Linked DNA regions of Homo sapiens: region 2 is linked to region 1. A link means that fine-mapping ties the variant in region 1 to the expression of a gene that starts in the linked region. Tissue or cell type: esophagus mucosa. Region 1 holds a variant in brackets; the other region holds the start of a gene. All regions are shown on one strand. Distances are between the middles of the regions.

Region 1 (4,159 bases):
GGGAGCCATCCTTGTGAACAGACAAGGCCCCAGGATATTCATTGTCTCTGTTCCTGCTTGGGGGCTGGGCTGGATCACATGGTCTGGCTGGTGGGAGGGAGCAAACTGGCACCTGGCTGCAGAGCAGGAGTCTCTCATGGTATTCTCAGGTCAGAGACAAGTGGTCTTAGGCTGAAGGCAGCCTGGCCAGCTTCCCCTGGCTCAATTATTCATTCTTGGCAACTGTCCATGGGTCTGGGTGTTGGATGGTGAGGCCTGGGTTTGTGCTCTGGACTTCTTCAGCCACCTGCACAACATGTACCATGAGGCCCAGACCACTGGACCTTGGCAGCCCACAGTGGGCCTGTAAATGCTGGCAGTGGGCTGTGTCTACTGTAAGATACCTTTCAGGAGGAAGCAGGCAGGGAGGTGAAGAAGCAGCTGGCTTAGAGCCTTTTAGAAGAAGAAGCACAAGCGAGAGTGGGACCCAGGAGCTTTACCTCCTGGGGTTTGGGAGTACATGGTTATCAGCATTTTCAAAACATAAGCTGCAGAGAGTTCTGGAGCAGAGTTTTCCTAGTGACTTTAGCAATGGCTCCTGAGGGCCTCCAAGCATCAGGTATGGGTGTATTTGCTCTTCAGAAGCAGATGAAGTACTTAGAGCAGCAGCAGGATGAGACCAAACAAGCACAAGAGGAGGCCCGCCGGCTCAGGAGCAAGATGAAGACCATGGAGCAGTGAGTTTGGAGCTGGGTCCTGCACTGTGCCTTTGCCCCCAGGGCCTGCAAGTGGTACAGTTCTTAGGACTGCAGCAGGGAGTGGGATTGGGTCATGTCCGAGGCTCAAATCTCCATAGGCCATGGAGGGCTCAGGTCAGCTGGGTGTGGGCACAGATCTTAGCCTCTATGAACTCTTCCCCCATTCCAAGGAATGGGAGCCCTTGCCACATTCCTCCCTGTCTCTGCTGCCTGTGGCCAGATGACCTGGTGGGTCTTTCCTTCCAGAAACCTCTCTCCAGGAAATCCCTGACCTTGAGACCCTCTTTCAGCACCTCTTCTTTCTCAGCAGCATCCTTGGAGCTATGCTCATCTCTGCCACAGGGCCTTTCCTTGGGCACACCCACCTACTAAAGCATCCTGGCAGCCTAGCCTGTTACCTTAGCAACGGCAGCAAAGGAAGGCAGAGCGGCACTGGGTACCTACCCATCAGCCTCCAGATTGCAAATGCCGTGGGCTGGGTGTATTTTTCAGGATTGAGCTTCTACTCCAGAGCCAGCGCCCTGAGGTGGAGGAGATGATCCGAGACATGGGTGTGGGACAGTCAGCGGTGGAACAGCTGGCTGTGTACTGTGTGTCTCTCAAGAAGTGCGTACTGTGGCCCCTCTCAGCAAACACAGGAGATAGGCCATGGGGCCCCAGCCGTGTCATTGCTCCCCATCTCTTGTAAAGCAGATGGAACTAAGGGGCAAACTCTGGAGCCATGCTGCCTTTGTTTGAACCCTGATTCCACCTTTCAGCAACTATGTGGCCTGCTGCCAGTTTCTTGGCCTCTTTGACCCTCAACTTCCTGAATGGAAATAGTAGTAGACCTGCCTCATAGGATTGTTGAGGATTTAGTGTGAATCTTAAGTGCTGTTTCTAAGGGAGTTGACCTAGCTCTCTGGGCTATAAGCCCCATTGTGATTGATATGTAGAGCCTGTTCCCCATTAGCACTATGATCCTGCCTGGCTGGGATCAAACTCTACTCATATTCTTCACTCTGGTGGGTGTAAGGTTGGCAGGAAGGGTGGAGGGCCACTTAGCTGAGAGGCATAGAGGGTCCAAGATGCCTCCTTTAAGACCAGGTGGTTTAGGGAGCCCCCTAGTGAGACTGGGGCTTTCTGCATGCCCTCTCAAGTCACCAGTGCCTGCAGGACAGGCAGGAGGAAATAGTCACTTCCTTGCATTCTCTGCAGGACCCTCCACAGTGCCACCTGGTACTTGTTGGGCTCAGGTGTCAAAGTAGGAATGAGAGTGAGTTGAGGGGTTGGGCAGTGCTTTGTGTTAGATTAGTGCTGTGGCTCAGTCTGACCTGCAGGTGTTCTTTTCTGGCATCTCTTTCCATGGCCACATTGCAGAGAGTACGAGAATCTAAAAGAGGCACGGAAGGCCTCAGGGGAGGTGGCTGACAAGCTGAGGAAGGATTTGTTTTCCTCCAGAAGCAAGGTAACTTAGCAGTGAACAGAGGTTGAAGGAGAAGTGGCTCTCCTTTTGTCATGTTCACTCTGGTCTCCTGAGCAAGGCCATGGGACCTGATGGCACAGCTGACTCCCTGGGGCAGCTGGAGGACTTACAGAAATTTGTTACCAGTCCTTACTGGGCATTGGCCTGAATATGTGGCTTGTCCACTAGGGGTGGACAGATCACAGAGGTATCCCCCAACATGTGGACACTGATGCTCCCCTCTGCTCTTCCTGGCTCCTGGGTACCTCTCAGCTGGCTGGAGAGCACAGGCCTCAAATGTGACAGCATCAGAGGCCTATTTTTGTACCACATCTGGAGTAG[A/G]AGGGCTCCTGGAACCTGATTCGGTCAGCACAGCTGCTTTTACTTCTGGCATGGTGCATCCACAGGCTGCAGGATGTAGGAAGCAGCCTTTGCTTCTAGGCAGCTCCGGATGTGCATTGCCAGACTGAGGCCTAGCCTCAGAGAGCTGGGATCTCTGCCCATATCTCTAGTCTCTTCTGGGCTACCTTGATCACTCCCTGGGGAGCAGCAGGAGGGGGCAGGGCACAAGGCTACCACTTGGCTTGTCTTTCATTCCCTACACTTTCTTATAGTTGCAGACAGTCTACTCTGAATTGGATCAGGCCAAGTTAGAACTGAAGTCAGCCCAGAAGGACTTACAGAGTGCTGACAAGGAAATCATGGTGAGGGACATCCCTGGCTTGACAGGAATGAGGGGTGGTTTGTGTGCCCTCCCAGAGCAGGGCTGGGCTATCTCTGCCCAGGACCCTTGCACCAGTCAGTGGTGGTTCTGGGCCCCTGCATCCTCCTGGGTCAGGGTGTGCCCCTTGGCCCTGGTCCGGACTGGAGCCTGGGCCTCCTCAACAGAGGGCAGACAGAACCATGAGTCTTCCCTCATAGTCTGTCCTGCACTTACATCCCTGAGGTCCCTTATCAGAGGAGGGGCTCTACCTGGGGCTTGGCCTCCTGAGCCTAATGATGAGGTATCAGGCCTTGCTCTGTTCCCAGTGGGCTGGCCTTTCATGCATGCTGCTCATGTCCTCTGCATTATCTCCGGACTTGATGCCTCAGCCTTTCTCTCACACACTTTTCTTTCCCTCCCCAAGAGCCTGAAAAAGAAGCTAACGATGCTGCAGGAAACCTTGAACCTGCCACCAGTGGCCAGTGAGACTGTCGACCGCCTGGTTTTAGAGAGGTTTGTTGAGCCTTGGGCGGTACAGGGGTCACAAGGTGGGAGAGCTTTCTGGTAACAGTCTTTACTCCTCCTGGCTTTGGTGGGGTGGGTGACCTCTGTGGACCTGATGTCTGCAGACAGCCTGCCCTGGGAGCCAGCCAAGATTTAGCTGGCAAGCAGCCTTGAAGCAAATTAGGCTCTGACACGGAGAGGCCAGAGAAGGCCAGAGGACCTAGAAGTGGTCTGAGAATAGGGCAGAAGCACTGACTGTCTTGGGGCATCCTGTTTATGGAGTAGCTCCCCACATTTATCTGTCCACCCCAGATTTTGAAACAAATATGAAACCACTGTAAAATAATTCCCTTAGTGCCAGGAGTGCGTGCTTTAAAGCTGCCAGCAGAGGGAGCCACGAGGCAGAAGGATTGGTGTCCCTGCAAGCATGGGCATCCATTTCTGCTCCTGAGAGTTTCACAGAAGCAGACTAGCTGAGAGCATCCTCAAGGCTACCTCCTGCCTGCCAAAAGTCCCCAGCAAGGACCCAGACAGAAAGCACACAACTCCTGTCAGTGGCCCCAGTCTTTTTTTTTTTTTTCCTTTTTCTTTTTTTAATGGAGTCTTACTCTGTTGCCAGGCTGGAGTGCAGTGGCACTATCTCGGCTCACTGCAATCTCTGCCTCCTGGATTCAAACAATTCTCCTGCCTCAGCCTCCTGAGTAGCTGGGATTACAGGCGCGCACCACCACGCCTGGCTAATTTTTTGTATTTTAGTAGAGACGGGGTTTC
Region 2 (4,159 bases), 27 kb after region 1:
CTAGCACTTTGGGAGGCTGAGGTGGGAGAACTGTTTGATCCCAGGAGTTTGAGACCAGCCTAGGCAATATGGTGAGACCTCATCTCTACAAAAAATTAGCTAGGCATGGTGGCGCATGCCTGTAGTCCCAGCTACCTGGGAGGCTAAGACAGAAAGATCACTTGAGCCTGGAAGGGAGTTTGAGGCTGCAGTGAGCCCAGATTGCGCCACTGCACTCCAGCCTGGGTGACAGAGTGATATCCTGTCTCAAAATAAATAAATAAATAATAAACAAACACAGAATTACCATATGACCCAGCAACTCTACTCCTGTGTATATGCCCAAAAAAGCTGAAAGCCCAGGCGCTGTGGCTTACACCTGTAATCCCAGCACTTTAGGAGGCCGAGGCACTTGACCCCAGGATTTTGAGACCAGCCTGGGCAACATAGTACTTGTTCAAGAATCAGGCTGGGCATGGTGGCTCACACCTGTAATCCCAGCACTTTGGGAGGGCAAGGTGGGAGGATCACTTGAGGCCAGGCATTCGAGACCAGCCTGGGCAAGATAGCAATACCCACCCCCAATCTCTACAAAAGCAAGTAATTAATTAGGAAATTAGCCAAAGCCAGGTGCGGTGGCTCACGCCTGTAGTCCCAGCACTTTGGGAGGCTGAGGTGGGCAGATTGCTTGAGTCCAGAGATTCGAGACCAGCCTAGGCAACATATCAAAACCCCGTCTCTACTAAAAGTAAAAAAAGAAAAATTGCACTCTGGGAGGCCAAGGCGGGGGGATCACCTGATGTCAGGAGTTCAAGACCAGCCTGGCCAACATGGTGAAACCCCATCTCTACAAAAATACAAAAGTTAGCCGGGCATGATGGCAGTGTCTGTAATCCCAGCTACTCAGGAGGCTGGGTCGGAAGAATCATTTGAATCCAGGAGGCGGAGGTTGCAGTGAACCAAGATTGTGCCATTGCATTCCAGCCTGGGTGACAGAGCAAGCCTCCGTCTCAAAAAAAAAAAAAAAAGAAAAATTAGCCAGATGTGGTGGTGCATGCCTGTGGTCCCAGCTACTCAGGAGGCTGTGGTGGGAGGATTGCTTGAGCCCAAGACACTGAGGCTGCAGTGAGCCATGATCACACCACTGCACTCCAGCCTAGGCAACCAGAGTGAGACCCTGTCTCAAAAACAAACAAACAAACAAAAACCACTTTAACAGGGTATGGTGGTGCACACCTCTAGTCCCAGCTACTTGGGAGGTTGAGGCAGCCGGATCACTTGACCCCAGGAGATCGAGGCTGCAGTGAGCTGTGATTGTGCCACTGCAGTCCAGCCTGGGCAACCGAGTGAGACTGTCTCAAAAAGAAAAAAAAAAAAAAAAGGACATAGCAGCACTATTCACAAATCCAAAAGTTAGAAATAACCCAGATGTCCATCAACAGATGAATGGATAAACGAATTGTGGTATATACATATAATGGACTATTATTCAGCCATTAAAAGGAATGAAATATTGATACAGGCTATAAACTCTATGAACATTGAAAACATTCTAAGTGAAAGGAAATAGACATAAGAGGTCACATTTTGCAATTCTTTTTTTTTTTTTTTTTTTTTTTGAGACTGAGTCTCACTCTGTTGCCCAGGCTGGAGCGCAGTGGCTCGATCTCAGCTCACTGCAACCTCCATCTCCCGAATTCAAGCAATTCTTCTGCCTCAGCCTCCCGAGTAGCTGGGATTACATGTAGGCATGCACCACCATGCCTGGCTAATTTTTGTACTTTTAGTAGAGATGGGGTTTCACCATGTTGGTCAGGCTGGTCTTGAACTCCAGACCTCAGGTGGTCCACCCGCCTTGGCCTCCCAAAGTGCTAGGATTACAGGTGTGAGCCACCATGCCCGGCCACATGTATGGTAATTATTGAATGTGTTTGGTATGTTCGTTGTGGGTGATGAAATATTTTGGAACTAGATAGACGTGATGGTTGAACAACACTGTGGATGCACTAAATGCCACTGAATTGTACACTTTAAAATTGTTAACTTTATGTTACATGAATTTCACCTAAATTAACAACAACAACAAAAAAGAACTTAAGACAGCACTTGGTTTGGCTATTACGTAGTTTCGTGACAAACAGTGGTCCATCTCCCAGAGAACTGGCCCCAGGTTCCTAAGAAGGCAAAAGGAGACACAGGACCTCTCTGCACTATTTTTTTTGCAACTTCTTATGAGTCTATAATTATTTCAAAATAAAAGTCTAAAAGGAAAATAAGAACATGTGTGAATGTGGCTGCCCCATGCCTCCCACCCTCAGGTCTGACACTCAGAGACTGATCACCTCTTGAGAGTCCTGGAACTCATCCCAGGTTTTAGACCCTGAATGGCCTGTCTGGGGCTGGCGTCTGGAGGCAGGATCAGGAGCCAGCTCAGAGCATAGTTTAACTTTCACTTTTCTTTTCTCCAGGAAGAGAGCTGTGACCAGCAGCGTCCCTTATTCGCTTGGCCTTGGTTCCTGTTTGCACTGGCTACAGCAGGGCACTGGCCCCTACTGTCACCGCCACCTACACAAAGACCCTATCTCTGAGCGCTGCAGCCTACTGTTCAGCCCCAGGTTTGAGGATGGATGCCCTGGACGCTTCGAAGCTACTGGATGAGGAGCTGTATTCAAGACAGCTGTGAGGCCCGAGGTGGGGGGTGGAGAGTGGGATGGTCTTCAGACCTTGATCTACAACTGCTTGCCTTCTGCTTCCCATCCACAGGTATGTGCTGGGCTCACCTGCCATGCAGAGGATTCAGGGAGCCAGGGTCCTGGTGTCAGGCCTGCAGGGCCTGGGGGCCGAGGTGGCCAAGAACTTGGTTCTGATGGGTGTGGGCAGCCTCACTCTGCATGATCCCCACCCCACCTGCTGGTCCGACCTGGCTGCCCAGGTAAGTGTCCTGGGGGGCTATGGGCTGCCAGACCAAGGTGGGGGCACGGCCCAAGAGGAGTGTCTTTGCTCAGGCTGCACTGGCTCTCTCCCTAGTTTCTCCTCTCAGAGCAGGACTTGGAAAGGAGCAGAGCCGAGGCCTCTCAAGAGCTCTTGGCTCAGCTCAACAGAGCTGTCCAGGTCGTCGTGCACACGGGTGACATCACTGAGGACCTGCTGTTGGACTTCCAGGTCAGCTCAGGCCTGCAGCCCTCAAGAGCAGGAAGGGCTGGGCAATGGTTTTGGCCCTGCTGATCACTGTGTCCACCCAGGTGGTGGTGCTGACTGCTGCAAAGCTGGAGGAGCAGCTGAAGGTGGGCACCTTGTGTCATAAGCATGGAGTTTGCTTTCTGGCGGCTGACACCCGGGGCCTCGTGGGGTGAGTAAGACTGCCTGCCCAGCCTACCATATTACAGCCAGCAACTGGCCTCATGCTGTCCTCAGCTCCAGGCTTGCTCCAGTGCCCCTCCAACCAGCCTCAGGTCTATCCCAGCATGCCTTTCTGATTCTGGTCCCCAGTCCTGCCCTCTGGTTCCTCCAACCTAGCCTCCAGACCTGCTCCAGTAACCCTCTCAAATTCTAGTTCCCAAGCCTCTCCTTGCATTCCTTTCCCAATTCTGGCCCTCTGGCCCTGCCCTAGTATCCCCTATCCTTAAGTACAATCTGTAAGCCACCTCAGTGACCCCTACCACCCCATCTCAGGCAGTTGTTCTGTGACTTTGGTGAGGACTTCACTGTGCAGGACCCCACAGAGGCAGAACCCCTGACAGCTGCCATCCAGCACATCTCCCAGGTGGGTGCTGAGCTGTAGGCATTCACCTGCTGACCAAGGAGAGGCTGCCAGGGCCTGTGGAAGGCAGGTCCAGGCAACCCTGAGCCAAGCCTCCTCCTACCCAGGGCTCCCCTGGCATTCTCACTCTGAGGAAAGGGGCCAATACCCACTACTTCCGTGATGGAGACTTGGTGACTTTCTCGGGAATTGAGGGAATGGTTGAGCTCAACGACTGTGATCCCCGGTCTATCCACGTGCGGGGTAAGCCAATCCCATTCCAATTCCAGGTGCAGGGCCCAAGCCTCCACTGGAAGTGAGCACAGCCTGGCCCTTGGGATGGGTTTTTCTCCCTCCACCTTCTACAAGGTGCAGCAAGGTCTGGGACACAGATGCAAGATAGGATGGGGTGTGGGAACTACTCAGGCTCAAGGATCATTA

Evidence for each region. PIP is the estimated chance that this variant, and not a neighbour inherited with it, causes the effect. A credible set is the group of variants that fine-mapping cannot tell apart.
Region 2: it holds the start of UBA7, and the variant in region 1 is the best candidate, but not a certain one, in a credible set for the expression of UBA7 in esophagus mucosa (GTEx, PIP 0.64).

What each region holds. Positions count from the first base shown.
Region 1 is chr3:49,839,010-49,843,168 of GRCh38, reverse strand. TRAIP (TRAF interacting protein) reads left to right here. Exons shown (of 15, transcript NM_005879.3): 6 at 622-716; 7 at 1,230-1,343; 8 at 2,097-2,184; 9 at 2,796-2,885; 10 at 3,309-3,397. Among named protein-coding and RNA genes, the nearest start is that of TRAIP, 15 kb to the left of the region's middle. The variant A/G (reference allele first, on the strand shown) is at 2,524.
Region 2 is chr3:49,812,231-49,816,389 of GRCh38, reverse strand. It overlaps UBA7 (ubiquitin like modifier activating enzyme 7), which reads left to right and starts at 2,437. Exons shown (of 24, transcript NM_003335.3): 1 at 2,437-2,658; 2 at 2,743-2,911; 3 at 3,007-3,141; 4 at 3,222-3,328; 5 at 3,652-3,742; 6 at 3,847-3,982. The coding sequence starts at 2,603. RefSeq lists an enhancer at 2,314-2,703.